Homo sapiens: one gene and its partners. The protein of the gene in region 1 interacts with the protein of each later gene in a biochemical or structural test. Each region holds a gene or a part of one and is shown on either strand. Other genes may lie near its edges. The genes, in order: SCN5A, DLG3, PDZRN4, MAGI3, NHERF2, GRIP2 and APBA1.

Evidence for each region.
Region 2: the proteins of SCN5A (region 1) and DLG3 interact in a test that uses a peptide from one of them, tested with the Homo sapiens proteins (one large-scale study listed by IntAct).
Region 3: the proteins of SCN5A (region 1) and PDZRN4 interact in a test that uses a peptide from one of them, tested with the Homo sapiens proteins (one large-scale study listed by IntAct).
Region 4: the proteins of SCN5A (region 1) and MAGI3 interact in a test that uses a peptide from one of them, tested with the Homo sapiens proteins (one large-scale study listed by IntAct).
Region 5: the proteins of SCN5A (region 1) and NHERF2 interact in a test that uses a peptide from one of them, tested with the Homo sapiens proteins (one large-scale study listed by IntAct).
Region 6: the proteins of SCN5A (region 1) and GRIP2 interact in a test that uses a peptide from one of them, tested with the Homo sapiens proteins (one large-scale study listed by IntAct).
Region 7: the proteins of SCN5A (region 1) and APBA1 interact in a test that uses a peptide from one of them, tested with the Homo sapiens proteins (one large-scale study listed by IntAct).

Annotation. Positions count from the first base shown.
Region 1 is NC_000003.12:38,552,188-38,555,687, forward strand, and holds part of SCN5A (sodium channel protein type 5 subunit alpha), read right to left. Parts: coding exon 3,469-3,500; intron 2,363-3,468; coding exon 2,092-2,362; intron 1-2,091. UniProt on the Homo sapiens protein: Pore-forming subunit of Nav1.5, a voltage-gated sodium (Nav) channel that directly mediates the depolarizing phase of action potentials in excitable membranes.
Region 2 is NC_000023.11:70,496,835-70,500,334, reverse strand, and holds part of DLG3 (disks large homolog 3), read right to left. Parts: intron 3,156-3,500; coding exon of another isoform or gene 3,114-3,155; intron 1,816-3,113; coding exon 1,765-1,815; intron 1,160-1,764; coding exon 1,058-1,159; intron 459-1,057; coding exon 286-458; intron 1-285. UniProt on the Homo sapiens protein: Required for learning most likely through its role in synaptic plasticity following NMDA receptor signaling.
Region 3 is NC_000012.12:41,572,283-41,575,245, forward strand, and holds the end of PDZRN4 (PDZ domain-containing RING finger protein 4), read left to right. Parts: intron 1-81; coding exon 82-1,608; 3' UTR 1,609-2,463; downstream 2,464-2,963.
Region 4 is NC_000001.11:113,638,515-113,642,014, forward strand, and holds part of MAGI3 (membrane-associated guanylate kinase, WW and PDZ domain-containing protein 3), read left to right. Parts: intron 1-3,396; coding exon 3,397-3,500.
Region 5 is NC_000016.10:2,029,902-2,033,401, forward strand, and holds part of NHERF2 (Na(+)/H(+) exchange regulatory cofactor NHE-RF2), read left to right. Parts: intron 1-3,392; exon of another isoform or gene 3,393-3,450; coding exon of another isoform or gene 3,451-3,500.
Region 6 is NC_000003.12:14,516,343-14,519,842, forward strand, and holds part of GRIP2 (glutamate receptor-interacting protein 2), read right to left. Parts: intron 1,556-3,500; coding exon 1,430-1,555; intron 872-1,429; coding exon 722-871; intron 1-721.
Region 7 is NC_000009.12:69,662,372-69,665,871, forward strand, and holds part of APBA1 (amyloid-beta A4 precursor protein-binding family A member 1), read right to left. Parts: intron 1-3,500. UniProt on the Homo sapiens protein: Putative function in synaptic vesicle exocytosis by binding to Munc18-1, an essential component of the synaptic vesicle exocytotic machinery. May modulate processing of the amyloid-beta precursor protein (APP) and hence formation of APP-beta.

The DNA of each region.
Region 1 (3,500 bases):
TGAGGGCGTCACTGCCCCTGGGTCTCCTGTGACTACCTGGGTTTGGAGTTTTAAGGGGCATGGATATAAATCATGGAATAAAGAGTGAAATAAACTTGTCTTATATGGCCCAAGTGCCCTTTCCAGACTCCTTATATAATAATGTCACTGACTGACATGGGTCCAGTGTTTACGATCACTGGGGCAATGGGCCGAGCACTTTATAGCCATCATTTCATTTAGTCCTTCCCATTGTCCTAGGAAGTGAGCAGATGCCATCATCCTTATCTTCCAGAAGAGGAAACAGAGGTGAGGTAACTTACCCAAGTTGCCACCTAGTGAGTGAGAAGCTGGGATTTGACTCAGACGTTCGGGCTCCAAGTTGATCTCTTAACCACTCCTCCTCTCTGGTACCGCCCAAACAGCGGGCCAGGAGAGATCCCAAAGTACATGCTGAACCTTCCAAAGCCTCTGAGACTGTCCCTCAATGGTTCCATTCCTGCTGCTGACATCCTGCATTCTCTAAAACTCCTCTCCAGTCCCATAAGGCACGCTCTCACCCTCATCCTGCTTGAGACCCCCCAGAGATTCCTGACCCTACTTTGTGCTTCCATCTTCCCGTCACTATAGCCACAGCAGTGCCTGCCTTAGCCCCTGCATTATCCTTTACATTTACCAGAGGCAGAGGTTGTATATGGCAGAAAGATGAAAGTCACAGTCACCGCAAGGCAGAGCCCCTTGGGGGTAGAGTTAAAGAGTTTGGGCTCCGAGCACAAGTGACAAAAGAAAAAATATAAGTAAACTGGACTTCATTAACATGTAAAACTTTTGTGCTTTAATGGACACCACTAGGAAATGAAAAAACTCACAGACTAGGAGAAAATATTTTTAAATCATATATCTGATAAGAGACTATGATCCAGAATATGTAAAGAACTCTTACAACTCAACAAGAAAAAGAGAAATAACCCAATTAAAAATGAGCTAAGGATCTGAATAGAGATTTCTCCAAGGAAGATATATAAATGACCAACATGCACATGGAAAGATGTCCTGCATCGTTAGTCATCAGTCATTTGCTTTTGCAAACCAAAACCTCAGTGAGATATCACTTCATACTCACTAGGAGGGCTCCTATAAAAAGAATGCAGGCAATAACAAGTGTTGGTGAGGGCAAAATAATTGGAATCCTCATACATTGACAGCGAGAATGTAAAAAGGTGCAGCCATATTGAAAAACAGTTTGGTGGTCCCTCAAAACTTTAGATAAGTGGTTTTCAGGGGTGAGGGAGAGGGGAAATGAATGGGGATTGACTATTAAATGGGTAGAGTTTCCTTTGGGGAAAGGAATATATTCTAAAATTAGATAGTGGTGATGGTTGCAAAGCTCTGTGCATATATTAAAAAACACTGAATTGTATACTTTAAAGTGACTTTAAAGTTAACCGTGAATTTTATGGTATGTGAATTATGTCTCAGTAAAGCTGTTATATAAAAAAAAGATCTGGGCTCCGAGGTCAAACAGACATGGGTCAGGATTGGGTCTCTGCTTCTCCCTAGCTGCACAATCTCCCTCCTTTGGTGCTGAATTGACTGGGTGAATTGCATGAGGCAGGTGATGTCTGAAGGAGTCTGGCATACACCTTGGCGGTTAGCTCCAGAATTTTCCATCTTCAGGGATAATTTCTACTCTGGAGGGCCACCTATCCCCCATCCCTGGGGACCCATCTCATCCTGAGCTTCCTTCTCCTTCAACCTAAGTGCAGGCAGAATTAGCCTCCACAGCACCCACTCCCATTCCCAGACTCATCCTTGAAGCTCTCTAAGCAGTTAGAGAACTGTGTTCCCAGTTCCTCTGGAGGGTGGGGCCAGGAGCAAGTGCTGGGTCCTCTGCCAGATTGGTCTCCTTGGCCCAAGTGGGGCCTTCCAGATAAGTTCTCTCTGGAGAGGTGTGTGTGCGTGTATGTGTGAGGGGAGAAGGGGGGTGAGAAATGCACTGAAAAAAATTATGAAAGAAGCTAGGGTTGTACATGGCATTCAGCAGAGACCCAGGGGCTGGAGGAGAGGCCTGGCTGGGGAGGGCTTCTCCGTCCAGCTGACTTGTATACCCACCCACGATGGAGAGGATGACAACCACGAAGTCGAAGATATTCCAGCTGTTGGTGAAGTAGTAGTGGCGCAGGGCAGCCAGCTTGACAATACACTCGCCTGTGAAGATGGCCACAAAGAGCAGGTTGATCTTGGCCAAGATGTTGATTTTCTCAGGACTTTGGTCATCTGTCTCCACCATCATGGTCACCATATTCAAGCAGATCAGAAACATGATGGTGACGTCAAAGGCCTGCTTGGTCACAATGTCGAATATGAAGCCCTGGTACTTGTTCTGAAAGGAGAGGCAAATGGAAAGTGCTCAGCAGGGCCCTTGGGGAGGCTGGCAAATGCCTGTTGCTGCCTCTCATCCCAGACCACCCACCCTCCCACTCTACCCTCTAGTGAGCCCAAAGCCCCTGCAACACTGCCACAGAGAGTGCAGAGGAAAAAGTCCTGGAGGCTAAAGCCACTGGCTGTCCTGCTGAAATGCTTCCTGGGCTTCAAGGCCCATCCCCAGAGCTCCATCTTCCATGAGGCCTTCCATGATGGATCTTCAGGGAGAGATTGTTCCTGCCCTGAGCATCCTTAGCACACTGTTCATTGTGCTTCCCTTTTAGTTCCCACAGTCTGAAGGCTCAAGGGCAAATTTAAACTTCAACCTTAGTAATTATGTCAGTGCTTAGATTAATATATTTTCTCCACTTTTTTATGGAATTTATTTTATTTATTCTACTAACCATATTTGTATGTGTCTTTAATTGTAAATCAGCCCAGATTATTTGGGGAAAGAAATAAGATTTTATATATATATATATATATATATATATATATATATATATATATATATATTTTTTTTTTTTTTTTTTTTCTTCTGTTCTCCCACTTGGAAAAGATTATAAATAACACACACACACACACACACACACACACACACACAATTTTTTGGATAATGGCTTGATTGGGCCAAGGGAGTCAGTCTTGGAGAGGACCCCGCTCTCCAGAGCTCTTGGCTCTCCCCACCAGGTGACTCAGGAATCCGGCTCCCTGACTGTTCTGGGGTTCCAAGGATGAGGCTGTGAGTGGGGTGGGGTGGGGCTGTGAAGGCTGCACTGCTTTTCCTGGGGAAAGCCTGCATCCTTGAGGGGAAGGAGGAGATTTGCTCAGGTACAGAGGGTTCCTGTGGGTGGGGAGTGTCCTGGGATGCTACATCCTTATCATACCTTCCTCCCTATCTCTACGAGGCTGGGACCTCTCTTCATGATCAGACATCTGATAGTGCCCCTCAGGCTGGGCTGAAAGACTGTGAAGCGGCTCTGATGGCTGGCCATGTGGCACGAAAGCTTCCCAGGGACCCCAGAAGATCCTCCCCACTCCCACAAAACCAGGAGCCTGGCTCACCAGGGGCCGTGGGATGGGCTTCTGGGGCTTCT
Region 2 (3,500 bases), on another chromosome or scaffold:
CCTAAGAAATTCGATCTCTGAAGTAGACAGGCCCTACTTTTTGCTCCTATTACCCAGAAAAGGCCACATCTGTCCAGGGCCCCCTATTCCCTGTTGGGTAATGCTCTGGGGTGAGTTGTATGAAGGAGACAGATAGCTTCGTCAAGGCGCTGGGAGTATGCAGATGTGCTATGGCTTTGGTCAGCAGCACTGTTGGGCAGCTCCTGTGTTGGAAGGATAAGGATCCAAGTGGAACCTTGGCATAAGCATTGGCCTCCCCTTTGAGGCCATCTCCTGTACACTTACCCTCTCTGCAACTGCCCGCACTGACTGGATGCTGGTCCCATAGAGGTTATCATTAAATTGGCCCGCCTCGATGAACTTGTTGTCCTGAATATCTTTCTCCATTTGTTCTCGGGACACCACAAAGTGGTAGTCTTGTCCATCCACCTCATTATCACGTCGAGGCCGGGTAGTATCTGAAGGAAGAAAGGAAATGCTTTGTGGCCCAGGGGCAGTGATCCGCCCCAAACCAAAAAATACTGACTGGTCCATTCTCATCTGGGTGGGTCACTGGGCCACTCCATTTTTTTTTTCAAGTAAGTGGGAGAAAACAAGCAGTTGGGAAGCGGTTTGTCTGGCCTACTTCTCTTCCAATCTCCAGGTCTCACACAGGGGGCTATTTGCTTTAGCTTAAACTGGACTAGAAAGGTGGGGTTTCCTGAGCTAAAGCATGGCAGAGGGTGCCAAACTTGGTAGAGGAGACAGTGAACCTAACAAACTGTTAATGGAGTCACATCAACACCACTTTGGCTGGGCCTCCGTATTTGTCCAATCATTCTCAACCATCACCACTGAAACTTCCCCTCAAGAGTGAGCAGCCAAGCCTGATGGCTTAATCTCTCCAACCCCATCAGCTTTTGGGGAATATATTGCCACCTACTGTTTTCCAGCGTGTCAAATGTACCCTGTCCCCAAATAGCCCTAGAATCTGATCCCAGACCTTTTCCATAAAACATTAGAGCAACAATTCCCAGGGCACCAAGCCTCACTCCTCTGGGCCTTCCTGGACTCTTACGTGGCACACAGGATCCAAATTTATGTGGAAATTCGGAGATCAGGTCATCATTGACTCGGTCCTTCATTGGGCCCAGGATGATCACAGGCCTTGCATAGTGAACTAGAGAGGGAGAGCATCGAGACAGTGAACAGAGGCCCCCACCAGACAGCCTGTCCTACCCCTGAGTCTGGCTAGAACACAGAGGCTCTGGAGCAGAGACTCAGACAGGGTAAAGCATCCTCAGACATTGTCTGGCTTTTAAACAGAAAGACATCAAAGAGCCTTTAATTTGAGAATATCTAAGTTCAAGGCAAGTCTGAAACCGGAAGCTGCTCCCCTTCTAACAGAGTCAGAAAAAATCTCTGCACTGACACCAGTAACTGAGCAAGGTTTTTGCAGAGCAGCCACTGAAGGGAAGAACCTGGACCTCTCTTTTAGCAGTGGCTACATCTACTGAAATAGACTTTCCTTGTAAATTTGCCCCCTCCTTTGGAAGGTGTCCTGGCAGCAGGCAAAGGCACAGAGAGAAGTGCACACTGGATGCACCCCCTTCCCTATGACACTAGGAAGAAGCATAGAGAAGAAGGAGCCCAGGGGCTGGATGTGCCATGAGTCAAGCCTTCCTCCTCCTCCAGGTCCCTCCCTCTGCTGCCACAGCCACCCACTGTATTGAGCCCCACGACCAGGAGACCAGCACGAAGACAAGGCTCTCAGAGGAGGCTTACTTTCTTGCCGTGTCACTGGCTCATATGACAAAATAGCATCCTCTTGTCCTTCTGCAACAAAAAAGAGAGATAGGTTAGCACCATATGATCTGCCTCCTTCTGTACAGTACTCCCCGTACCCCTCCCCTGCCAGGACACAGCCTTATCAGGTGGTCCTTGCCACCACCTGTGATCCTTTCTGTTTTCTGCTGGTGAGAAAGCACATGAAACCCTTCACTGGCTCTGAGACAGGAGTCAGCAGTTCTCTTGTTCAGTGAAATATCACTGGGCAAAGGGCCAAGGCCCAGAAGCCATGAAGCCTCCACCCCAAACCACCCCAATTTGTGAGGAACTCTTCTTGTAGGTAACAAGTCAGCTGTGTGCAGTAGCCCCCTTGCTCTGGTAAGAATGACAGGGACACTTTGACTGGTTGAGATGCTTGCCCGAGTCCCCTTCATCAACATGCAGGGGAGTCAGGGCACACACCCAGGTCCCCAAGCAGCCTAACTTTGCCCTTTTAAAGGTCTACCAACCCACCTCCTGCATTGGAAGCAGCATCCAGAAAAGTGGCACATGGCTCTGCTAAGGTCCCCAGTGCCCTTTAAGAGCAATGCTGAACCTGCTGTCTCTTCCTGGTGGAGCCCCATGTCGAGCCTAGCAATGTTGAGGTTTTCCTAAAACAGTCGTCAAGCCACTCGGTGCTGGGTGCCTGGAGGTCCCAAAGTGGCTGATGGCAGTCCCAGGGAAAACAGTGATATTTGCATCAAGGCACACAATGCTTGCTAAAAGGCTTCTTCTGAGCCTAATATTCCTGGGCAGATTTTACAAGGCTTCTAGCCACCATAGCTCCTGAAAAACCAGTGCTCCCAAAGTTCATGAGGTTTGAATTACGGTTTCTCTGGTCTGGTCACAGGATCTCCCAAGGAGAACTTGGCAATTACCTCATCCTTTAACTGGCCCCAAAGGCAAAGAGGTCCTAATGACCTGGAAAGGCAGATTTAGGGCAGTGTCCTAGAGGAGCCATTTTTCTTTTGGTCTCTGAGCAAATCTATAAACCTGGCAGCACCTATGGCCCACAGTACCCATGGCAGGGATTTACTCTTTGGCAGTTTACCCTTCCCAGTGCCAGGGATGCTTTTAAGTCAGGTCCCGGCCAGCACTATAGGGCTTATACTCTCCTTTAATCCATGGGGTGAACCCCAACCCATAAGGAGAATGAACTGGCCACAGCATTTCTAGGATCTCAAAGTGTACATGGCTAAAAGAAGCACCAGCCTCTGAGCAGCAATGGCAGCTGTGCAACACTGGAATGAGGATGGCTGGGATACACAGTGGAGCTACACGACATGGAAGGAATGACACACACTTACTGGAACTGCTTTCGCTGTCACTGGTGTTGGATGTCACTCCCTCTGCAAGCCAACAAGAAAGAGACTCCAATTCAGAACACACCACTGAGAGGTCACATGCAGCACAAAACTCAAATGCTCCAGGAGCGAGACACTGAGCTGCCAACTGAGTCAGGCCACCAGAGGCCTGCCACATCCAGGCTACCAACTGGGAGGCACAGCTCCAATCCTGAGCCCCTGGCCCTCTCGTACTTGTCCCCAGAGCCCTCTTGGTCTGCCAAGTCCCTCCCTATGTACTACAAGCCATACTTCCTTCAGCAGCATCCTCTTCATCTGAATCAAATTGACCTGGATGGTTTCCAAATCGTATTTCAAAATGCATCTCCCAAGGCTAACAACAGGAAAGAA
Region 3 (2,963 bases), on another chromosome or scaffold:
TGGTTTTCAAACAAGATTTTTAATAACAAATGTCTTCCAAAATCATTAATTTTCTTTGTTCTTTCAACATCATTTTCTTAGCCAAAAAAGCAAGAAGAAGAAGAAGGCACAACAGACACTGCAACATCCTCATCCAACAACCATGAGAAGGACAGTGGAGTAGGACGTACAGATGAAAGCTTGCGAAATGATGAGAGCTCAGAGCAGGAGAATGCAGCCGAGGACCCCAATAGCACATCTTTGAAGAGCAAGAGAGACCTGGGGCAGAGCCAAGACACTCTGGGAAGTGTTGAACTTCAGTACAATGAGAGCCTCGTATCTGGTGAATACATTGACTCAGACTGCATTGGCAACCCAGATGAGGACTGTGAAAGATTCAGGCAGCTCTTGGAGCTCAAATGCAAGATTCGAAATCATGGAGAGTATGACCTGTATTACTCAAGCAGCACAATTGAATGCAATCAAGGGGAGCAAGAGGGAGTGGAGCATGAGCTACAGTTGCTTAATGAAGAACTGAGAAACATTGAGCTTGAGTGTCAGAATATCATGCAGGCTCACAGGCTCCAGAAAGTGACAGACCAGTATGGAGACATCTGGACATTGCATGATGGAGGATTCCGGAATTATAACACCAGCATAGATATGCAAAGGGGAAAGCTAGATGACATCATGGAGCATCCAGAAAAGTCTGACAAGGACAGTTCTAGTGCTTACAACACAGCTGAGAGCTGCAGAAGTACTCCGCTCACTGTAGACCGTTCCCCTGACAGTTCCCTTCCAAGGGTGATCAACCTCACCAATAAGAAAAACCTGAGAAGCACAATGGCAGCCACCCAGTCCTCTTCCGGACAGAGCAGTAAAGAGTCGACCTCCACCAAAGCCAAAACCACTGAGCAAGGTTGTAGCGCTGAAAGCAAGGAGAAGGTTTTAGAAGGCAGCAAGCTTCCTGATCAAGAGAAGGCAGTCAGCGAACACATCCCTTACCTCTCTCCTTACCACAGCTCCTCATATAGATATGCAAACATCCCAGCACACGCCCGGCATTATCAAAGCTACATGCAGTTAATTCAACAGAAATCTGCAGTCGAGTATGCTCAGAGTCAGCTCAGCTTGGTGAGCATGTGCAAGGAGTCTCAGAAGTGTTCAGAGCCCAAGATGGAATGGAAGGTGAAAATTAGGAGCGACGGGACACGGTACATCACAAAGAGACCCGTGCGAGACCGAATCCTGAAGGAACGTGCCTTAAAGATCAAGGAAGAGCGGAGTGGCATGACCACAGACGATGACACCATGAGCGAGATGAAAATGGGGCGCTACTGGAGCAAAGAGGAGAGAAAGCAGCACCTGGTTAGGGCCAAAGAGCAGCGCCGTCGCCGTGAGTTCATGATGCGAAGCAGGTTAGAGTGTCTCAAGGAGAGCCCTCAGAGCGGCAGTGAGGGCAAGAAGGAGATCAATATCATTGAACTGAGTCACAAAAAGATGATGAAAAAGAGAAACAAGAAAATTTTGGACAACTGGATGACAATCCAAGAACTGATGACCCATGGGGCCAAGTCTCCAGATGGCACGAGAGTCCATAATGCCTTCTTGTCGGTGACCACTGTATGACCGAATGAATGGAATGCATGCGACTGATTTTAGGAGGATGCTACCAGTTTCGGTAGAGTATGATTGCCTCGTTCAATGTGGCGTTTTTATATATATTTTGTGACTCTTTATAGTTTAAATTTTTTGTAAGCAAAAAATACCTGGTAATTTTTCATTTGTTTTTCATATACTGGTACCTTCTTTTTGGCTGAGATCTTTCTTTTACTTGTGATATATTCATATTACTCGTTTATAAAAAATCAAAAACAAAAGGAAAGAAAACAAAAAAAACTTGCACAAAAATACTGAGGAGCCAATTAATTTCCTACTTCAATGTATCTAATGTAAGTGAAAATCTGGATTTATTTCTCTAGTTTACTTATTTTCTACTTTAATAATAACTCAATGCCAAAATATTTCTATGCTTGTTTCTTGGCATAATACATTTTAAATCAAACCTGTTCGTAATAAATCATGTGCCACATCTTGTCTTACACATAAAAGCCACTGCTTTTAACATCCCATTGTACATTTAACACATAAATGGTGTTAACATCCCATTGTACATTTAACACATAAATGGCCATTGTCTTTGTCTCAGTAAAGTGTAGGTGGACAATCTTCCTGTGATATGTAGTGACATTGGTCATGTAGCTAGATAATTATGGTAATTGTGACAATTAAAGAGAAATAAATTATTGATTATCCTTCAGAAAAATTATCAAGGAGTGTTTTATTTTCCTTGTCCACAGTGGTTGACAGTTATAAAGTAGTTATATGTGTATACTATTTAGAAGACGCCTAATTGTGGATTATAAAATGTGCACATTTTCTATCACTTGTTTCCAATAAAGTTGTATTGAAACATTCCCTATAGATCACTGTGTCACATATGCCTACCAGGATTAAATTCGATAATATATGTATAGCATCTAACAGATGCTAACTCAACATTCAATAGCCATTAGTTCATGTTCCCGTTGCCTGCCACCCACTTTTAAGGTAAAACCAAGAAAAATTTAAAGAATGCCATGGAGAGAGAATATCAGTGAAGTGTCTGAGATTGTTTATAATGCTGCAATGTATGTTAGTCTGCTCTGGCTATCATAACATAATGCCATACTTAAACAACAGGAATTTATTTCTCATAGTTTTTTTTTTTTTAAATGGTGGTCTCACTTTGTTGCCAGGCTAGTCTTGAACTCCTGGATTCAAGCAATCCTCCTACTGAGGCCTTCCAAAGTGCTGAGATTACAGGTGTGAACCACTGTGCTGGGCATCAATTTCTCATAGTTCTGAAGACTGAAAGAGTCAAGGTCAAACACACTAGGGGTTAGGGTTTCAACATATGAATTTTGGAGGAACACAATTCAGTC
Region 4 (3,500 bases), on another chromosome or scaffold:
GGTACCAGCAGCGGTAGCTGCACAGCAGCGGATTTTCGTGAACCGTGAATGCTGCTGTCTGATCGTTCCTCTGGAAGTTTTTTCTCAGAGGAGTACCCGGTCATGTGAGGTGTCAGTCTGCCCCTACTGGGGGGTGCCTCCCAGTTAGGCTGCTCAGGGGTCAGGGGTCAGGGACCCACTTGAGGAGGCAGTCTGCCTGTTCTCAGATCTCCAGCTGCGTGCTAGGAGAACCACTGCTCTCCTCAAAGCTGTCAGACAGGGACATTTAAGTCTGCAGAGGTTACTGCTGTCTTTTTGTTTGTCTGTGCCCCGCCCCCAGAGGTGGAGCCTACAGAGGCAGGCAGGCCTCCTTGAGCTGTGGTGGGCTCCACCCAGTTCGAGCTTCCCGGCTGCTTTGTTTACCTAAGCAAGCCTGGGCAATGGCGGGCGCCCCTCCCCCAGCCTCACTGCCGCCTTGCAGTTTGATCTCAGACTGCTGTGCTAGCAATCAGTGAGACTCCGTGGGCGTAGGACCCTCCGAGCCAGGTGCGGCATATAATCTCCTGGTGCGCCGTTTTTTAAGCCCATCAGAAAAGCGCAGTATTCGGGTGGGAGTGACCCAATTTTCCAGGTGCCGTCTGTCACCCCTTTCTTTGACTAGGAAAGGGAACTCCCTGACCCCTTGCACTTCCCGAGTGAGGCAATGCCTCGCCCTGCTTCAGCTCGCACACGGTGCGCTGCACCCACTATCCTGCACCCACTGTCTGGCACTCCCTAGTGAGATGAACCCGGTACCTCAGATGGAAATGCAGAAATCACCCATCTTCTGCGTCGCTCACGCTGGGAACTGTAGACCGGAGCTGTTCCTATTCGGCCATCTCGGCTCCCACCTGTTTAGTTTTTTTGTTTGTTTGTTCGTTTGTTTGAGACCAAATCTCACTCTTGTCATCCAGGCTGGAGTGCGATGGCAGAATCTCGGCTCATTGCAACCTCCGCCTCCTGCGTTCAAGTGATTCTCCTGCCTCAGCTTCCTAAGTACCTGGGATTACAGGCGCACGCCACCATGCCTGGCTAATTTTTTTTCTTTTTTTGAGATGGAGTTTTACTCTTGTTGCCCAGGCTGGAGTGCAGTGCTGCGACCTCGGCTTACTGCAACCTCTGCCTCCTGGGTTCAAGCAATTCTCCTGCCTCAGCCTCCTGAGTAGCTGGGATTATAGCACATACCACCACACCCAGCTAATTTTTTGTATTTTTAGTGGAGACAGGGTTTCATCATGTTGGCCAGGCTGGTCTTGAACTCCTGACCTCAGGTGATCCACCTGCCTCAGCCTCCCAAAGTGCGGGGATTACAGGCGTGAGCCACCGCGTCTGGCCTAATTTTTTTGTATTTTAGTAGAGATGGGGTTTCGCCATGTTAGCCAGGCTGGTGTCGAATTCCTGACCTCAGGTGTACTGGGATTACAGGCATGAGCCGCTGCGCCTGGCCTGAGCCACCACGCCCAGCCAGTGGCTTCTTAAACTCAAGAAATAAGGTGGTATTTAAAGATAGACTGACCCTGTCAAAAAGTGGACAAAGGATATGAACAGATACTTCTCAAAAAAAGACAATTATGTGGCTAACAAGCATATGAAAAAAAGCTCAACATCGCTGATTATTAAAGAAATGCAAATCAAAATGACAGTGAGATATCATCTTACGCCAGTCAGAATGGTGATTATTAAAAAATCAAGAAACAATAGATGCTGGCAAGGCTGTGGAGAAACAGGAACGCTTTTACACTATTGGTGGGAGTATAAATTAGTTCAATTAATGTGGAAGACAGTGTAGCAATTCCTTAAGGATCTTGAACCAGAAATACCATTTGATCCAGCAATCCCATTACTGGATATATACCCAAAGGAATATAAATCATTCTACTATAAAGACACATGCACACGTATGTTTATTGCAGCACTATTTACAATAGCAAAGACAGGAACCAACCCAAATGCCCATCAATGATAGATTGCATAAGGAAAATGTGGTATATATACACTATGGAATACTATGCAGCCATAAAAAGGAATGAGATCATGTCCTTTGCAGGGACATAGATGAAGCTGGAAGCCATCATCCTCAGTAAACTAACACAGAAACGGAAAACCAAACGCTGCATGTTCTTATAAGTGGGAGTTGAACAATGAGAACACATGGACACAGGGCCGTGAACAACAAACACCAGGGCCAGTCGGGGGTTGGGGGACGAGGAGAGGGAGAGCATTAGGACAAATAACTAATGCATGTGGGGCTTAAAACCTAGATGACGGGTTGATAGGTGTAGCAAACCACCATGGCACACTTATACCTATGTAACAAATCTACATATTCTGCACTTGCATCCTGGAACTTAAAGTAAAATTTAAATATATATATATTTATATATGATATATTTTATATATCATATATATAAATATATATAATATTAAATATATATATGATATATAATATATATACACTATATATGATATATATAATATATATGATATATAATATATATGATATATATAATATATATGATATATTATATATGATATATATAATATATATGAGATATATATTATATATATGATATATAAATATATATGAGATATATATTATATATATGATATATAAATATATATGAGATATATATAAATCTATATATATATCAGGGGTGGAGGAGGATTTCTGGCTATAGGGGCTATAGGAACTTGACAGGATTCTTGCTGAATGCAGGCTGAGGTGATCAGGTAATCACCTGGAGAATGGTGGGGAATGAGGACTTAGATCATATATCAAGAGTGGGTGATTCTGGCTAAACCAACTTAGCAGGATTCCTGCTAAAGCTGGGCTCTGGAGGACATGCCAAGGATGAGGCCTACTGAAAAAAGAGCTCAGAGGAACCTGTCTAGAGTTTGGTTAAGGACAGCGTCTTTTTCAGTGTATGTATATATACATACATACAGATATATAAATAAAATTAATTTATTCAAAAAATATAATACAGTTTGTACAAGTAGTCAGTGGAGTTATTTGCTTCTGTACTAAATACCTACTGCAATGTGCCTAGCTTTGCATGGATACTTAGATATGACTCAGAGGGTATACTAACAATGATAATATAAATTATCAGGGTTTTTTTTTTAATGATTCACTTGAGCTTGAAGTCAAAATTCTTTGCTACTGAAATAAGTAGGATTTTAGACATTTATACATACATTTTAGAGAGGAGTTAGAAAAGGGAGAAGGTCTGTGTTAGAAATCTATCTTTTCAGCAGTTAATAGAGGTTTCCAAAATTCAAATTTAGTTGCTAAATTGTAGTTATTTTTGCCCCTCTAGCAAAAAAATTAACTTATTTGTTGATTTTAATATTTTTAACATGATTATGTTTTTCCAGGCGATGTTATTGTAGACATCAATGGCAACTGTGTCCTCGGTCACACTCATGCAGATGTTGTCCAGATGTTTCAATTGGTACCTGTCAATCAGTATGTAAACCTC
Region 5 (3,500 bases), on another chromosome or scaffold:
GCTCCTTTTCTGCCCCAGGGACCATCTTGTTGGCCACTGGGGGCCACTGTTTCTACCCTCAGCCTGTGTTTTAAACTGGGTAGGGTCAGGGCAGCCTGGCCTGTTCCTCTTCTCCAGGATGCTCCAGAGCCACTTGCCCTATCGAGGGGTCACTCTGACAAGCTGCCGCCTCCCCAGCCCCCAGCCTCGTGGCTGAGGAACCCTGGGAAGAGGCATTCCAGGTCTGCGTGTGCGCAGCTCTGTGCCTGTGCTGGGTGTCATCCGTGGCTCTGTCTTTGTCTCTGTTGAAGGCGCCTGCATGCTGGGAAGGCCTGGGAGAGGGCCGGCCTTCTCCACAGGCAGCGCCGTGGTTGGGGAAGCCTAGGAGGCCACTCTGCCAGGCCTGGCGTAGGTGGGGCTGGGAGCATGGGAGTGGAGTTGGGGGTCCAGGAGGCTCCAGGGTGAGCCCACTCCTCCCCCTAGATACAAGGGAGGGCCCTGGGACCCTGTCTGCTGTTCCTCCTGGACTCCTGCTGGGTAGTACTTCCTCCTTCCCCTGCCCTTGCTCCCAGCCAGGAGACCCAGAAAAGTACAGGGGCGGCCTGCTCCACCTCCTGCTAGGTGGCCGACTGGGAGGGGCGGCCTGGCAGGCCTTGGGGACCAGGAGGAACAGCCTGAAGCTGTCTGTCTTATCTTCCTGGAGGCCCTGATGGCATTATCTCCATGTTCTCTCCTACCTTTTTTTTTTTTTTTTTTTCATTTTCAAAGAGAACCCTGGCCGGGTGCGGTGGCTCACGCCTGTAATCCCAACACTTCGGGAGGCTGAGATGGGTGGATCACCTGAGGTCAGGAATTTTGAGACCAGCTTGACTAATGTGGTGAAACCCCCGTCTCTACTAAAAATACAAAAATCAGTTGGGCATGGTGGGGCACGCCTATAGTCCCAGCTACTTGGGAGGCTGAGGCAGGAGAGTCGCTTGAACCCGGCAGGCGGAGGTTTCAGTGAGCCGAGATCCCGCCATAGCACTCCAGCCTAGGCGACAGAGTGAGACTGTCTCAAAAAAAAACAAAAAAAGGAAAAGAAAGAAATCCCTTCAGGGGATATGAGTCCAGGGGTTGGCCAGACCCCACTGTGAGAACCGCGCTTGGGGCAGGGGTGTGGGATCTGGAGTTCTGAGGGTGCAGGGGATATACACATTCACTTTCTCCCTTTCCCAGACGTCACTGCTGAAGCTGGCTGCCCCTAGGAGCTGAGCCCGGGGGGAGCGGCTTGGCAGGGAGACAGCATTCCCTGTGGGGAGCCCAGCCTGGGCGCAGGCCTGCCCGTGGGACCTGTGGGACCCGTTTTGTTCCTGGGGCTTGAGGGCGGGCCACAGTGGTGCTCAGGGCCAAGGTGCCCAGCCCAGGGCTGGTGGGGGGGCTGGCCTTGCAGGGGGGCTGGCTGGTCCTAAGCCCCTGTCTCCAGGCTGAGGGTTGGGGCCTCCCTCTTTCCCAGCCACCTTCCCTCCCCCAGGAGGAAGCTCCCCCTCTGCCTCAGGCGTTTGTCCATTGATTTGGACACAAACGCATGGTTCACCTTCCTGTGGAAAAATCCGGCCCTCGGACTTTATCTGGAGGGTGCAGTGGCCCAGGCACCTTGCCTTGGGTGGGACCTTCCCCCTCTGCTATTTCAGGCTCTGGGGGCTGCAGGAAGCCCTAGGAGGGGCTTCCTCTGGGTGTATTTTTAGAGGAACAAAGGGTGGCCTGAGTGGCAGGTCCCTTTGTGCATGAGTCTGGCTGGGGACAGGGGCTCCAGGAGGTCAGGGGGCACCCAAGGAACAGGGTCTCCCCTTCTCTCTTCTGGCATCAAGACCTGAGGTTTCTTTTTCTTTTTCTTTCTTGGCTCACTACAACCTCCGCTGTCTGGGTTCAAGCGATTCTCTTGCCTCACCCTCCCCAGTAGCTGGGATTACAGGCGCGCACCACCACACCTGACTAATTTTTGTGTTTTTAGTAGAGACGGGGTTTCACCATGTTGCTCAAGCTGGTCTCGAACTCCTGATCTCAGGTGATCTGCCCTCCTCGACCTCCCAAAGTTCTGGGATTACAGGTGTGAGCCACTGTACCCGGCCCCTGAGGTCTGAGGTTTCATTTCTTTCTTTCTTTTTTTTTTTTTTTGAGACGGAGTTTCACTCTGTCGCCCAGGCTGGAGTGCTGTGGTGCGATCTCGGCTCACTGCAAGCTCCGCCTCCTGGGTTCAAGCAATTCTTATGTCTCAGCCTGCTGAGTAGCTGGGATTACAGGCGTGTACCACCACACCTGGCTAATTTTTGTGTTTTTGGTAGAGACAGGGTTTCACCGTGTTGGCCAGGCTGGTCTCAAACTCTTGGGCTCAAGTGATCCGCCTGCCTCAGCCTCCCAAAGTGCTGGGATTACAGGTGTGAGCCCCTGCGCCTGGCTCAGGACCTGAGGTTTCTTCACCTGAGCTCCCAGCATGGGCAGGAAGAGGTGGGCCTCACCTGACCTCCACAGAGCAGGCTCAGATCCTGCCCTTCTCAGCCTGGGTTCAGGGCATGCCTCAGATGGTCAGGGAGCCCAGGAGGGCAAAGCTTACCTTGCGGGGATGGCTCCAGTGGGGGCACTGGTGGCAGAGAGGCAGAGCTCTGGAAGGGATGTGTGTAGTTTGTCTTTGGTGAAGGATGGAGAGGGCCCAACTTTGGGTGCCCCCTGGGAGCTAAGGGTGGCTCTCAGTGTCCTCTGTCCTGGCTGGGGATAGGGGAGGTGGGCAGGGGAGGACACTGATGTGGTTGGCCCCTCCTTTTGGGGGCCGTGAAGGCCTAGTTAGTGATGACTCAGCCCTGGGCCACACCAGGCTGGGGGTGGCCGCAGCTGCAGTGCAGCTGATCCTAGTAGTGACGACAGGGGACAGCCCCCAAACAGAGACGGGGTGGCCAGCGGTGCCAGGCCCTGGAGGTGGTGGCAGACCCTGAGCCCTCTGCCCCCTGCCCCTAGCCCATGTCTCCACCCCCATCTGGAGGGCCTTGGGGGCTAAGAGCAGGTGTGAGGGGTGACAGTTCTGCGGGAGGCGGCTGTGTGGTTGGGGCGCGGTGCCTGCGGGGGCTTCCGGGCTTCCCTGGCTCTTGCTCCTCTGGAGCCTCAACAGGACCGTCCTGTGTTCTGGGGCCGGGACTCCTCCCTGTCCCCTCAGCCCTGGGTCCTGGGGCAGGGCAGGGCCTTCCAGCAGCTTCCTTCCTTCCTTTCTTGGGACGGAAGCCTAGCTGGGTGGGGGGCGCCAGGCTGGAGCCTTCGCAGGGGAGCGGGCTCAGTCATCACCCTGCTCCCCAGAGTGACTCAGCCCCCACGTCCCCACCCATCCCCGGGGAGCCAGGGCCGCAGAGGGAGGTAGATAAGTGGGGTGGCAGCCTGGGTCGGCCAGAGAGTTCAGGCCACCCCGGCCGGACGCCTGCCACTTGCTGTCACTGTGCCGCTGTCATGGCACGCTCCGGGAGTGCCACGCCACCTGCCCGGGCTCCGGGAGCCCC
Region 6 (3,500 bases), about 24 Mb from region 1:
ATCTTCTATCCTTCCTGGAGGCCTCTGCAGCTCATGTGGCAGGAGGCTGAGAACCCTTTCTGCATCAACAAAGGAAAGACTGTTCCCAAGAAGGGTTTCAAAATTTTAGGCATTATTGTGTTTTGCCACTTCCACAGGGCTCCTGCCTTATCATTCACTACTTTTGTCTTCTATTGATTTACTTTTCTTAACATGTAAATATCTTTATTTCAAAAGGGCAATTTTGAACAATAAATAAGCAGAGAAGTAAGACTGGAAATTATTACATTCTGGACAGCTAGAGTCTCAGGCCATGTCTTTGTCTTAGGGGAAATTAACAAATGGCAGAGAGGTGGTAAGGATATAGTAACGCAGCACTGAGGCTTTATCCATGAATGAATCAGGACTGAATGGCAAAAAATGTGAAAACTTCATGCACATCTGAAAAGACTTCCTTTCCTCAAGGACGTTATCACCAAATCCTAGGAATTTTTCATAATAAAAATACAAGAATAAAAGTGTACAAAGTAACTGGCACCTCTCAGTGGTCCTCTTGAGCAGTGCACAACCTGCCCAACCATCCATGACAGCCTGGTGTTCCACTCATGTTATTTAACATTCCCACGCATACACCTGGAGCTCTGCCCAAAATACCTCCCCTCGCCCTGACATACACCCTTTGGCAAGCCTCACTCTCAGACATACAAGCAGCCCAAGGAGGAGGGAAGAGACCACAGCTTACACGAGCTCTTGTGTTCCCTTCTTCGCTGCCTCCTCCGCCCCATTGTAGTTCGAGGACTCATGGGCTGGGATCCACGGGGAAGGGTGCTGGGGTTGTTGCAGGAAAAGGCGTGGTTCAAGGTCGGCGAGGAAAAGGGAGTTGAAGACAAGGCTGGGGAGATGAGAGCACAGCCCCGTGAACCCCAGCCGAGGCTCTCCACCCCACCACACAGTGGGTGCTGGGAAGCCACCCAACCACAGGGAGAGATGGGGATGCCTTCCCCCTTCACATCAGTTACTCATTGTGTGACCTCAGGCAAGTCCCTTTCCTCTCTGGGTCTCAAAGACTGCAGGGTTTCCATAGACCCTGTGAAACTCAGCTATTAGGGACGGGGCCAATCTTGCCACTGGCATGCTAGATGACAATGAGGCAGGCCACCTAATCTCTCTCTCTTTTTTTTTTTTTTTTTTTTTTTTTTAGTTGAGGTCTCGCTCTGTCACCCAGGCTGAAGTGCGGCGGTGTGATCTTGACTCACTGCAGCCTCAACCTCCCAGGCTGAAGCGATCCTCCCGCCTCAGCCTCCCGAGTGGCTGGGACCACAGGCGTGCACCACCACACCCAGCTCACTAATCTCTGAGTCTGAGTTTCCTTCCCTTAGACAACAGGCATCGCCCCCTCCCTAGGAAAGGCTACAAGACTGGCTGAGCTACAGCAGGGCAGGCACATTACATCGGCTTTGGTCCTGGCCAGCAGGTGTGGCCCAGGTGGGCATCCTGCAGTGGCCGGGCCGGGGGCTGTGGCAGGAGGGCACGCAGGGGTCCCAGCGGTGCAGCTGCTCACTCCTCTGCACTTTCACTGTAGCCAGCGGAGAAAGAGGAAAGAGAGGTGCAGGCGTTAGTGGCTGAGGGCACTATGAAGCCAGGAAAGCAAGAACCAGAAGATCCTCGTGCTTCCCCTGAGCCAGGCAAGGCATTTAGTATTCTGCTCACATGTCCCGGACGCCTACAATGTGCCGGGCACTGTGTTCAGAGTGCAGCTGCTGCCACATGGCAGCCTGAGAGGCAGGGACAGGAGAGAGAAAGGAAGCCAGGCCGAGGCCCACTGCTGGGAGGTTGTGGAGCAGGGATTTGAACACAGGCATCCTGCCCTGGAGCCGGAGAGGTCTATGGCTATGAGTGCTGCCATGAAGTTTCTCCAAGAAAGAATTGGTGAGGAGTGCAGCTGGCAGACGGTGTCCAGCTGCAGCACTTTGGGGATATGCAGTGGCTCTGCAGCCCAGGCAGCCTCGGCCAGTGGCTGAGCACCGGGGCACTAGGGCCTGGCTATTTCTGCCCCACGACTCTCCAGGACAGCCTTTGCTCCAGGGCTTCCTGCTGGGTTGGCCAAGGCTGAAGTGCACCACGGGCTGAGGCTGCTCCCCCTTCCCAGGCTGCAACCCTTCCCAGCCTTATCCACAGTGAATTCTTTGCACTCCTGTTCCAAGTTCCCAGGGAACCCCCACTGCCCCGACCCCCTAGGAGACCCTGCTTCCTCCATCTGATCCTCCAAACTGGCCACCATACAACACCTCTTCCCAGACCGCCCCAGGCCAGCTCTCCTCTTGCGCGGATGGACAGGTGAGGACTCAACTGTCTCAGCCCGTTGATTCTGTCTCCTTGAGCCACATCTCCACAGCCCCCCTCCCCAGGGCTTGGCCCACTCTGGAGCCAGTTGCCTGGGTCAAATCCCAGCTCTGTCCCTGACCAACTGCGGGACCTGGAGGAGTCACTTCGCCTATCTGTGCCTCAGTGCTATTATCTGTAAAATGGGACCAAGAGAGTGGCCACCTCCTCGGGTAATGGGGAGGGTTAGAATGAGTTAATAATATAACATGCTTAGAGCAGTGCCTGGCACTTAGTAGAAGCTCAGTTAATGAGAGCCAAGGGGTTGTACGCAGATGTGTAGCCTTGCAACGCTACCTCAGCTTTCCCTGTAAAGTGGGAGGACAGTAAGACTAAGCTCAGAGAGGTGTCATGAGGAAGTAATGAGGCGTGCAGGCCGCGGCACCGAACCTGGCACGTGGCAGATGCTCGATAAATGGTACGAGAATGAATGACGCTGTTTCAAGCCCTAATGTCACCCAGACCAGTCCCTGGACTGTGGTTCATTCAGTGTGGCTTTTTCAGAAGCTGGCAGAGACCATAGAGATGGACTCTCCCCAAGAACTGTCCTCCCAATCAGATGTGGGGGATTCCGTTCTCTTCCAGAAGATGGGGTTTGCAAAGGGTGGGGTGGACAGACTCCTTCCTCACCCTCCAGCTCTGCCCTTAGGGCTAGGATTTATAGGCCTGGGCTGTGCCTTGTCCTTTATCTCCGTCAGCCTCCCCCATGTCTGTGCATTAGAAGTCCTCCCTCCTTTTTACAGATGAGATGACTGGGACTCAGAGAGGGAAAAGCACTTGTCCAGCTGCTGGGAGCAAAGATGGGACTTTCACTCAAGGCCCAAGGTTTGGGCTGCTGGACGTGCTTTCCTGCCCTGAGCTGAAAGCTGCCCCTCTGTGGCCACCCCCCACCCTGCCCCTGGCCCCAACTGTGCCCTCTGGACCCCCAGACCACCCACTTCCTCTGCTCTTGGAAATGCCCAGCACCCAGCTCCCTGCTCATAGCTGGGAGACCCTGACTCTTCAAAGGAGAAACTCCAGGCCCTCTCTAACTTCCCAGCTGCCTCCTCTGGATCTGCTGAGAGTCACTGAGAAGAGCCCAGGATCTAAGCTCTGAGTAGCAGAGAGCACAGGACTGTTCCCTCCCTCATTCTAGCCCT
Region 7 (3,500 bases), on another chromosome or scaffold:
ACTTGTTTTTAGTCACTGGATGGGGAATCTGCTGAGCTTTTAAAAAAGGAATTTATGTGTACTTTGATAGCTAGCCTGCCATAAAGAACACAATCATACCTGAACATAAGATTAGGTTAAGCTTTCATATGACCTAATACTATGGAAACATTTCATCTGTAGAACAAATTCTAGCTCCTTTAGGAGAGAACTCTTCCAGGTACTAGCTCAGGGAAAAATGATTCTTATATTTTCAAGTTATTTGGAAGGGAAGTGGGCGTAGAAACTATTTTCACATCTGGGAAGAAATAATATTAGGTTAAAATTTAGAATTAAGTAATTTAACTAAACATCCAGAACTCTAGAGGCTAAGAGACAGCAGCTAGGAAGAGGGGCAGGAAGAGTGAAGGACAGGAAAGAATCGTGAGGAACCAGCTCAGCAAGGAGGTTGTGGCCCAGTGACTTGACACGGTCCCCACAACCCAAGAAAGCCACAGATCTAAGAACAAATCTATTCTTCTTACTCCACTTTCCCTTTTCCACACTAATGTAATTTCTTCTTTTGGAAACAAAATGTCTACTCAAAAATAAAGTTTCTCTCTGTGATTACTGCATCATTTGTCCATACCACCAAATATCCAAATATGCTAACAATTCAAAAAACGAAAAAACAACTTTTGACATGAAATTATTTCATACTATAAGAAAATAAACACTCTTCTGATAAATGTAATACAATACAGCAGTGTTTTCTAAACTGCATATTAGGGTTCACCAATGCAGAGATTACTTCAGTGGGTTGGCAAACATACAGAACAGAAGAGAATAGGATAGGAAGCATCAGGGTGGATTACACATAATAAAGGACAAGTATTGTTGAGTGAAACTTGTTTCAGTGATGTATGTGTGTGTGTATATGTGTTTACACACATTCATCTATGTTGCTAGCCTATCATCTAAATTGTGTTCTCACCAGGAATCATGGCCAAAAGTGTGTAAAAGCCACTGCAACAGAATGCAACCCACTTTAGTAAAGTCCAGTATAAAAGTCCAAATTCACTGAATAGCCAATGTAGGGGGTAATTATTCTTGTTAAGTGGAATTTCCTTAAATGACTCTAAGCTCGTCCTCTGCTTTTAAAATATGCTACAATTTACAAGAAAAAGGAATTTATACATACTTTGGCAATTATCCTTCTTTAAAATAAAGTGTGCCTGTTAATAAATGCAGAATTGATCTCGAGATACAAAATTTATCAATAGTCAGAAACATAACGATTACATTATTTGGAATGGTGGCCAATTAATTCCATTAGGAAATAAATCATTGCTGTATTTGCTGTATTTTTCATACAAATTGTATGCTAATTAATCCACATGGAACAGAAGAGGAGGCTGAAAAGGAAACTTAGTGTGTAGGGATTGGTTTTGCCACCATACCTTGACAACCTCCTGTGATCACTTTACATATACAAAAAGATGAGATTCTGTCCTCCAAAATGTGTATTTCAGAAAAGAGAAAGTTGCCTTATGTATAAATGCTTACAAAGTCTCCCATATTGTGGGGTATTCTCTTAATTACCTTCTTCTGAATGCCAAAAACCCTGTTACCTCCAAGATAACAGAAATTGAAAGCCATGTAATTCACTAATGCTGGATGTGACGGCAACTGATTTTAAAGAGAGAAACCATGAAAAAACATATTACCTGGTAAGACTGCAGATTTCATGAAAAGGAGTTGTGTGTTTCAGAGGTTACTTAAGAACTATTTGGAGAAGATAGCCGGAAATAAACTCAATCAACACAAGATAGGGATACTTCTGAAGGCTATGCAATTGAAAGAAGATAAATGACTGAATGAATACAGAGTAAAGGAGGCCATGATTTTAACACCAATTGAAGTAAATATTCCTGGGAAGGAGCTTTACAATTGCTTGTCTTGGATGTCTTTACACAAGACATACAGAAGTGCTGGGTTGCAGAGATCATAAATATACTCCTTTAGGAAGAAAGGATAAAACAAACGTTCTTACATTAAGTGAATGAGCACACAGGGTTTGGAATAAAGTTTGTGGTGGTAGCATCATACAGAAACTCAAGAAGTACTATATCTCAAAAAAGTTAGATAGAAATGAACATGACAAAAGTGGCCTAATCATGACAAAGACTCTAAAGTCAAAAAAGTATGTGAAGTATTTGAATAAATGATTTCATAAAATGTGAGAATGGAAGGATGTCATATTTCTAAATTAATAATTTTATATAATGTGACTTCAATTATATGAAAGTAAACTAATAAATTAAACATAAGTAGATACTTCACTCTTTGCCTATATTCCTAGAATATGCATATTCAAGTTGACATAAAGTCTTTTTATAAACGCTCTTGTTGGAAAACTGAGGGCCACCCTATAACAGAGCGTATCTTACACATGAGCATATATAGTACTCTGCACCTCAGATAACTGAGGGTGGCCAATAGTTGGCTTGTGAGTGAACAGAACTGCAGGCAGTTGTCACAATACATTAAAATCCCTAAATTAAAATAACTGCCATCAAACCAATTATTATCTGTTAAAAATTCTTTATGATACCTCTGTGCTGTGTTAAACAGGGGTCCCATGTCCACTTCTGAGTTCAGCTATAGCTGTATCGACAGTCTCCAAATACACTGACAGTTTCCCACTTCCACCTGGCTCTGCCTCTCTGCTTCTCTGCTCAAGAGCTTTCTTTGGTGTCTCTGGAGCTTGCTCAGGCTAATCTTAGCAGCCCTAAAGTACTGAAGATTTAATATCCCTAGGGAAATGGTGGATAAAGACCCCACTTTCTCCACTGCTTGGTGGACAATCCTAATGTGCAGTCTATATAATGCCAGCAGAGCCAAGCCTCAGCTGCCCACCGTGGTAACCTGCTCATTAACTCACCTCTTAATGGGCTTTCTTCCCTCTCCTGTGTCATTTTCTCCATTCTCTCACTTGTGCTTCTTGAGGTTGTCTCTCAGATAAACTATTCTGAACTCAAGTCCTCATCTCAGGGTCTGCATGCATAAACTGCTTTAGCATCCTATGGCAATTCTGTGTCCTGTTTGAAAAACAGCTACCTATCTGCAGAAATCAAGGTAAACGAGCTTTACCCTCATTCTTTACACCTGAGTTACTTAAATCTTTGGAAATTTCTCATCAATTCCTCTCCGTAAGTATTTGATAAACCCTTACTAATGCAGAGAGTCAGTCTGTGTTATAGAGTATACCCAGATGAACAAAACAAAGTTCTAGCCTCAAGGATCTTATACTTGAGAATGGAACATGAAACAAGGAAGAAGAAAAGAGAGCAATATTTAAAGAAGATTCAGGACACAGAAGAGATGTAAGTTCCAAGGAGCAGAACTACTTCCAGCTGACTAGTATTTCATCACTACCCAGACAGAATCACGCTTTGTTTTCTGATGTGATCTCGGCTCACTGCAACCTCTGCCTCCCAGGTTCAAGCAATTCTCCTGCCTCAGCCTCCCAAATAGCTGGG